Homo sapiens: one gene and its partner. The protein of the gene in region 1 interacts with the protein of each later gene in a pairwise test. Each region holds a gene or a part of one and is shown in the gene's direction. Other genes may lie near its edges. The genes, in order: TBC1D22A and PEX1.

Evidence for each region.
Region 2: the proteins of TBC1D22A (region 1) and PEX1 interact in binary tests that used the Homo sapiens proteins (3 or more experiments, as listed by UniProt).

Annotation. Positions count from the first base shown.
Region 1 is NC_000022.11:46,786,626-46,790,446, forward strand, and holds part of TBC1D22A (TBC1 domain family member 22A), read left to right. Parts: intron 1-3,821. UniProt on the Homo sapiens protein: May act as a GTPase-activating protein for Rab family protein(s).
Region 2 is NC_000007.14:92,518,472-92,522,292, reverse strand, and holds part of PEX1 (peroxisomal ATPase PEX1), read left to right. Parts: intron 1-47; coding exon 48-191; intron 192-3,214; coding exon 3,215-3,298; exon of another isoform or gene 3,299-3,333; intron 3,334-3,821. UniProt on the Homo sapiens protein: Component of the PEX1-PEX6 AAA ATPase complex, a protein dislocase complex that mediates the ATP-dependent extraction of the PEX5 receptor from peroxisomal membranes, an essential step for PEX5 recycling.

The DNA of each region.
Region 1 (3,821 bases):
TCCCTCTGGGCTTGGACTTTTCTTTGTGCGTAGTGTTTTGATTACTAATTTAGTCTCTTTATTTTTATTTTTTATTTTTTTGAGACAGGATCTTGCTCTGTTGCCCACACTTAAGCGCAGTAGTGCCGTCATAGGTCACTGTAACCTCAAATTCCTGGGCTCAAGTGATCCTCCCACGTCAGCCTTCTGAGTAGCTGGGACTACAGGTGTGTGCCACCATGCCCACTAGTTTTTTGGTTTTTAATAGATGAGGTCTTGCTTTGTTGGCCAGGCTGGTCTTGAACTCCTGGGGTTCAAGTGATCCTCCCACCTTGGCTTCCCAAAGTGCTTGATTACAAACGTGAGCCAGTGTGCCCGGCCTCTAATTCAGCCTCTTTCCATGTTATGTATCTAGTCATATTTCCTCCTGCTCCTTGAGTAAGTTTCAGTTGTGTGTATCTTTCTGGGAATTTGCGCATTGTATCTAATTAATTTTATTTGTTGGTGTACAGTTGTTCATAATATTCTCATAATTCTTTTTATTTCTGTAAGGTTGATAATAATGTCTTTTCCATCATGTCTGACTTTAGTAATTTAAGTCTTCTCTTTTTTCTTTTAGTCAGTCTAGCCAAAGGTTTGTCAATTTTATTCATCTACTCAGAGAACCATCTCTTGGTTTTGTTCATTTTCCTTATATTTAAGGAAACAACCAGACCAGCAGCTTTCTGTGTCTCCGTGGAGTCCTGCTATGGTTCTGGGAGTTGCCTCTCCTCTCTTTCTGTCGAGTGGCCCGGCCAGTGCATGTGGCGGCTCCTGCGTCTCCCCTTCACCAGAGTAGCTCTGCCTTTACCTGTTTGGCATTTCCATGTAACATTTCTTTTGAAAAGTTGGTTTACTGCTAAAGTACTGGCTTTCATACAGTGAAACCCCACAGAACAAAACTGGAGCTGCGTGCATTAACATTGATACATAAAGAACAATCTTGAGGGAACATCTAGTTGCAAAGGTACATATGTATGAAATGATAACAGTGTAAACTTTGCAAATGTGCAGAATAATACTGTATGTTGCCCAGAGATCCACGTCTCTTCCATAATAGTATAAACTCTTACATGGAAATGGAAAATGTCAAATACAGGTTGGTAGCCACCTCAGAGGAGGCAGGTAGAGAACCAGAATGGGGAGGGTTTCAACTCTATTATATGACAAAATGTTGGAATTTGGGGGAAGTGAATCTCTGGGTGGTGTCTGTGTGGTTATTCCTTATGTCCTATATGTCACTAAGCTGGCTGCAGCCTGCCAGGGGTAGGTGACTTTGGGCAGGCTACTTTTTTTTTTTTTTTTTTTTTTGGGACGGAGTCTTACTCTGTCACCCAGGTTGGAGTGCAGGGGCGTGATCTCGGCTCACTGCAAGCTCTGCCTCCCGGGTTCACACCATTCTCTTGCCTCAGCCTCCTAAGTAGCTGGGACTATAGGCGTCCGCCACCACGACCGGGTAATTTTTTGTATTTTTAGTAGAGACGGGGTTTCACTGTGTTAGCCAGGACGGTCTCGATCTCCAGACCTCGTGATCCACCCGCCTCGGCCTCCCAAAGTGCTGGGATTACAGGCGTGAGCCACCACGCCCGGCCAGGCAGGCTACTTTCTTAAGCTTTCTGTCCCTCAGTTTTTCCACCTTTTGAATGGGAAGAGTAATGATATCTGCCTTATTGGGTTGCAAAGATTAAAGGACTTAACACATTGAGAGTTTAAAATAATGCTCATCTCTGTTAGCTACTACTATTATTCTCTATGCTTTATTGCTTGCAGTATTGATAGTAAAAAAGAAACGGCATGTTGAGCAAATCTGGAGGCTGTTGAAAGTGGTTGGAGCTGAGCAGTGGCACGTGGCATGGTGGTCACAGGGCTGTTCCTTCACTTTTCTGTGTGTTTCATTCCTTTGGTAAAAGTATCCAGCACCAGCCCCACTGGGACCCGCCTGTGGTTCATGCCACAGGGCGTCTGTGTCCTCAGCACCCAGGACAGTGCCTGCCTCGTAGGTCCTTCCTGGTTGAGAGGAGGGATCAGCGCTTTGCTTTCAGGTCATCTTCAGTTTGAAACTGAAACTCACTCTGATGTATGCAGAAATAAATGTGATGTTTTCATCTGGATGCTGACTTTAGAATTTTCTTCTGAAATCATATATTTCTCCTTATTGGCTTTTTTTTGGGAAGGAGAAGTCATAACAAACCCTTCAAGGGGCCAGACTCTTTTGAATTCCTTTCTCTTCTCTGGGTTTCCAATCTTCCTCTGTGGAGTGAGGGGTGGGACTGGGCTCCTGGGCCTTTGAAGGAAGGCCGGGTGTGGGCTCATGTTTCTGCTTGCTGTGGTGACAGGCCCTTGGCTGCCACTTTGATGTCCCACTGATTCCACTGCTCCTGGCCTTCAGATCAGGTACGTGCTGTTTTGTTTGTCTCAACCTTCTGCCAGCCACTTTTCCTAGTTCTAAGTGTGATTTTTTTTCTTAAGGAATCTTCCTTCTTTTCTTTTTTTTTTTTTTTTGAGACAGAGTCTCGCTGTCGCCTAGGCTGGAGTGCAGTGGCGCAATCTCGGCTCACTACAAGCTCTGCCTCCTGGGTTCACGCCATTCTCCTGCCTCAGCTTCCCAAGTAGCTGGGATTACAGGCACGTGCCACCAAGCCCGGCTAATTTTTTGTATTTTTCATAGAGACGGGGTTTCACTGTGTTATCCAGGATGGTCTCGATCTCCTGACCTCGTGATCCGCCCGCCTCGGCCTCCCGATAAGACTGGGTTTCTGTGCTCCTGTGACATGCTCTTGTAGGAATCATCATAGAACAGTCAAAATGCCAGTTGAAGTTTTGCTTTTGTGAGTAAACTGTAAGGGCCGGAATAGTTTGGATGTGTTGTGCTTACCTTTGCCTCCCCAGTGCCCTGTCCGAGAGTCAGTATCAAAAAAATGTTTGTCAAGTTTTGCTGAAAAATCTTAGAATATAAAAGTGAACATTTGGTATAATTAATATGTTGTGCTGCAGGCATAGGAATGGGATACTGAATAGAAACTGAGTGGGAAACTGAAAAATGACCCAATGTAATATTTTAACGTTAAAGATGATGTTCTCAAAGCAGTGGGTGAAAGGAGAGGTTACTGAATAAATGACATTTGAACCCTTCTTTATTTTTTTTTAAAGTTTCCTACTAAACACTATATAGCAAAATAAAATAAATTCTAGGTGGATTGAAAACTTAAGGGTAGGAACGAGCCCTCTAGAAGGATTGAACTAGCACACGGCAATGTTTATGCACTCTCAGAAGGGTCAGGCCTTTCCAAGTGTCGTCCCCAAAGTGGAGTCACGAGGAAAGGACACAAGAGTGGCTCAGCCTCCCAGACCAAGGAAAACAGATTGGCCACCGCCATTGTCTTTCTGTGACTGCTCTAGCAAATCATCACAAACTTACTGGCTTACAGCAAACATGGTATCCTAGAGTTCTAGAATTTGCAAGTCTGATGTGGGTCTCGCTGGGCTAACACCAAGGTGTTGGCGGGGCTGGTTCCTTCTGGAAGCTCCAGGGGAGAGCGTTTTCCCTGCTCTCTCCAGCTCCAGGAAGCCGCCCACGTTCCTTGGCATACAGCCCCCTTTCTCCACGTACAGAGTCAGCCATGTTGCATTTGTGTGACCTTCCGCGGTCTCTTCTGCTCTGACCACAGCCAGGAAGGTTCTCTGCTTTTGAGTACTCATGATTAGATTGTGCCCATCCGGATTGCCCAGGATGGTCTCCCACCTCATTCGTATTCTTAATTGCATCTGCAAAGTCCCCTTTGCCATGTAAGGTGACGTAGTCA
Region 2 (3,821 bases), on another chromosome or scaffold:
AAAATGTATACGAAAACCTTTTTTCCTCTCATTTCTTATATGAATAGAATCAAGCTATAGAAGTGGTCTGGAGTCACCAGCCTGCATTCTTGAGCTGGGTGGAAGGCAGGCATTTTAGTGATCAAGGTGAAAATGTGGCTGAAATTAACAGACAAGTTGGTCAAAAACTTGGACTCTCAAATGGGGGACAGGTAAGCACATGTGATGGCAATAACTTTCTTCTAATATCACATAATATAGCAATAGAAATAAAATTAAAAGTTTAGATTTTTTGTTAAAGGAGGTGAGATGTCACCTAATTTGTATGCTATTATGTAACTAGTCTAGGATATTGAAGCTGACTATACTCTGTTTTTAGGTCATTATCTTGTAGTTTACCATACTCCCTACTTGCTTCTTATTCTACTATTTAACTCATTTTCCACATCCCCTAATTTTGGTTTCATGAAATTATTTTTCCTTCTGAATTACTAGGTTCTACTTACTATTATTAAACTTTATTTCTGACATATTTTATAACCTTCCATGGTCTCACTTGATTAAAAATAAAAAATTCAGCTGGGTGCGGTGGCTCACACCTATAATCCCAGCACTTTGGGAGGCCAAGGTGGGCGGATAATTTGAGGTCAGGAGTTGGAGACCAGCCTGCCCAACGTGGTGAAACCCCCCCTCTCTACTAAAAATTCAAAAATTAGCTGGGCATGGTGGCAGGTGCCTGTAATCCCAGCTACTCAGGAGGCTGAGGCAGGAGAATTGCTTGAACCTGGGAGGTGGAGGTTGCAGTGAGCTGAGATTGCACTGCTGCACTTCAGCTGGGTGACAAGAGCGAAACAATGTCTTGAAAAAAAATAAAAAATAAAAAATTCTACAACACAGGGTTATTATTTTTCCATTTTTGTTTTCCCTTATGAGTTTAATATGTTTAGATTATAAACCTGAAAGCTTGAATACCTATGTCTATCTTTTGTTTTCTTATGTTTATCAAGTTATTCCTTTAAACATTTTCTAAACTGTAAGAATAATGTGAGGCTGGGCTCAATGGCTTATGCCTGTAATCCCAGTGCTTTGGGAGGCCAAGGTGGGAGGACCACTTGAGGCCACGAGTTCAAGATTAGCCTGGCTAGGCAACATAGCAAGACCCTATCTCTATAAAAAAATTAAAAAAATTAGCTGGGCATGGTAGCAAATGCTTGTAGTCCCAGCTACTCAGCAGACTGAGGTAGGAGGAATGCTTGAGACCAGGAATTTGAGTGACCTATGATTATGCACTCCAGCCCGGGCAATAGCAAGACCCTATCTCTTAAAAGAAGAAGATGTAGTAATAATACATATTCATTATAACTATTTTACCATTGAAAGTAAAAAATGAGTTTTTACCTTTTCCCAGTCCCATCCTCAGAATGGGGATCTCAGTAGACCTTTAGGATTGGAAGAATGAGATCATTCATATTTTCTGCAATTATTACCCCACAAAATATTTCAGATACCTTTCCATGTATTACAAACAATGTGCATTTAACATGTCTCTCTCTTTCTCTCTCTCTCTGTGTGCGTCTTCATGATCCTCTGTTGCAGCCCTGCCAGTAAGACACTATCTCCTGAAGAATCACTGATAGGAACAGAAAGTGGACTGGCTAGGCCAGGAGTCCTTAGCTTCTTAGGGGGCAGGAGCTGCTTTGTGCTTTCTCAGAATCAGATATATATGTGGACTGAAACATTTAAAAACAGAATAGCCAAGGGTGCTATACGTTTAAAACTTATATAGATGGGGCTACATTGCTCTCTATTACTAATTTCCCATGACAATACACGAGAGTGCCATGTCTTTTTAACTTGTTTTGAGCACAGACTAATCTTGTTTATGCATGTTTTTTGATGAGAATAGGCTACTCATGAGAAATCTGTAAACCTAACACTAGTCCCTTGCATACTCTAAATTGTTGCTAGAATCTTAAAATTTTAGCACCAGACGGACCTTAGAAATCATTAACTTTGGTGCTTTGTTCTACAATACAAGGAGATGGAATATTTTACCCAGGATTGCTTAGCAGGTTACAGTTCTGCCCTCTGAGTACCCAGCACTTCCCTGTGGGCAACATCAACTTCCTGATTTTCAAGTCTTAATTAGTACTCTGAAGAATCCTACTTGTTTTTAACTCCCATTTGCTTTGAAGTGACTTTACCTGATTTTTTTAGATCCCTTATTGCAGCAATGCCACTAAGAAACTGAGTCTCTAGCTTCTTGGTGGGCAGGAGCTGCTTTGTGCTTGCTCAGAATCATCCTTTTCAGTAAGGGAGATATTGAAGAGAAATCTACTGAGGAGTCTGGGGGTGAGGCACTCAGGGAAATCCTGCTCCAGTCCACAAAAGCAGAGAGGAAGGGTTGGTTACCTAGAGTATTTAACATGCAGAGGCTTTGGATTTTACTCCTTTAATCCTTGGAAATGCCTATGGAAGGGGAAAGGAAGTAAGATGGTGACTCCAGCTTATAGACATACTAGTGTTACATATATTTAAACTATAATAGGAGGGTATTATTAGTTTTACTTAACTTTCAACTGTGAAGGATTATACTTCTCAATATTTGTCTCCAGTGTCTATTTCAGTGTATTTTTCACTTTTCTTGAAGCAGCATGTCTGTTGCAAAACTTCTAGAAATAATGAGAATATTTATATATTAGATCAAGCCATAACTTGATGATATAGTCATTTCTTCTTATATTTTTTACTTACATTTTTACATTTTAATGATTACTTTCATTTTTGAAAAACATGTCATGCTGAGATGTATTTTTCTTCATTCTGTAATTAGTTATGAAACAGTTTTTCCTAAAATGCTGAGTATATCAAGTCTTGGCTAAGAATAAGTAATAAATATTTGCCACATGAAAGACTACACATATAGCCAGGTGCAGTGGCTTGCACCTGTTTTCCCAGCTACCCAGGAGGCTGAGGCAGGAGGATTGCTTGAGCCCAGGGTTTCCAGGCTGCAGTGAACTATGATTGTACCACTCTACTCCAGAATGGGTGACAGAGCCAGGCCCCATCTCTCAAAACAGAAAAGAAAGATTACATAGACTACATATACACCCCCATCCAAAACATACACACACATCTACTTAACCTAAAATGGTAAGAAGATAACTTCTTATTTTCTAATATATGACACAGAAAAGTTTTTTTAAAGTAGTTTTAAATTTTTAATTTTTTCTAGGTATTTCTCAAGCCATGTTCCCATGTGGTATCTTGTCAACAAGTTGAGGTGGAACCCCTCTCAGCAGATGATTGGGAGATACTGGTAAAGAAAACCAAATAAGAACTATCTCATTTAAGGTTAAATTACTTCACAATATCAATGTCTTTAGCTTTCTCTAAGCTTTATTATATATTCTGAGTTGGTTTTGAATTATAAGAATGAATTGGGGCCAGGCACAGTAGCTCATGCCTATAGTCCCAGCACTTTGGGAGGCCAAGGCAGGTGGATTGCTTGAGTCCAGGAGTTCAAGACCAGGCTGGGCAACATGGTGAAACCCCGTATCTACTAAAAATACAAAAATTAGCCAGGCATGGTAGTGCATGCCATTAGTCCCAGTCACTTGGGAGGCTGAGGCAGGAGAATCGCTTGAGCCCGTAAAGTCAAGGCTGCAGTGAGTCAGGATCTTGCCATTGTACTCCAGTCTGGAAAACAGAGTGAGACCTTGTCTCAAATAAAAAAAGAATGAATTGATAGAGATCTAATGTACAACCTGACAACTATAGGTAATAAAATTGTATTGGGGATTCATGTTAAATGAGTAGATTTTAACTACTCTTACCACAAA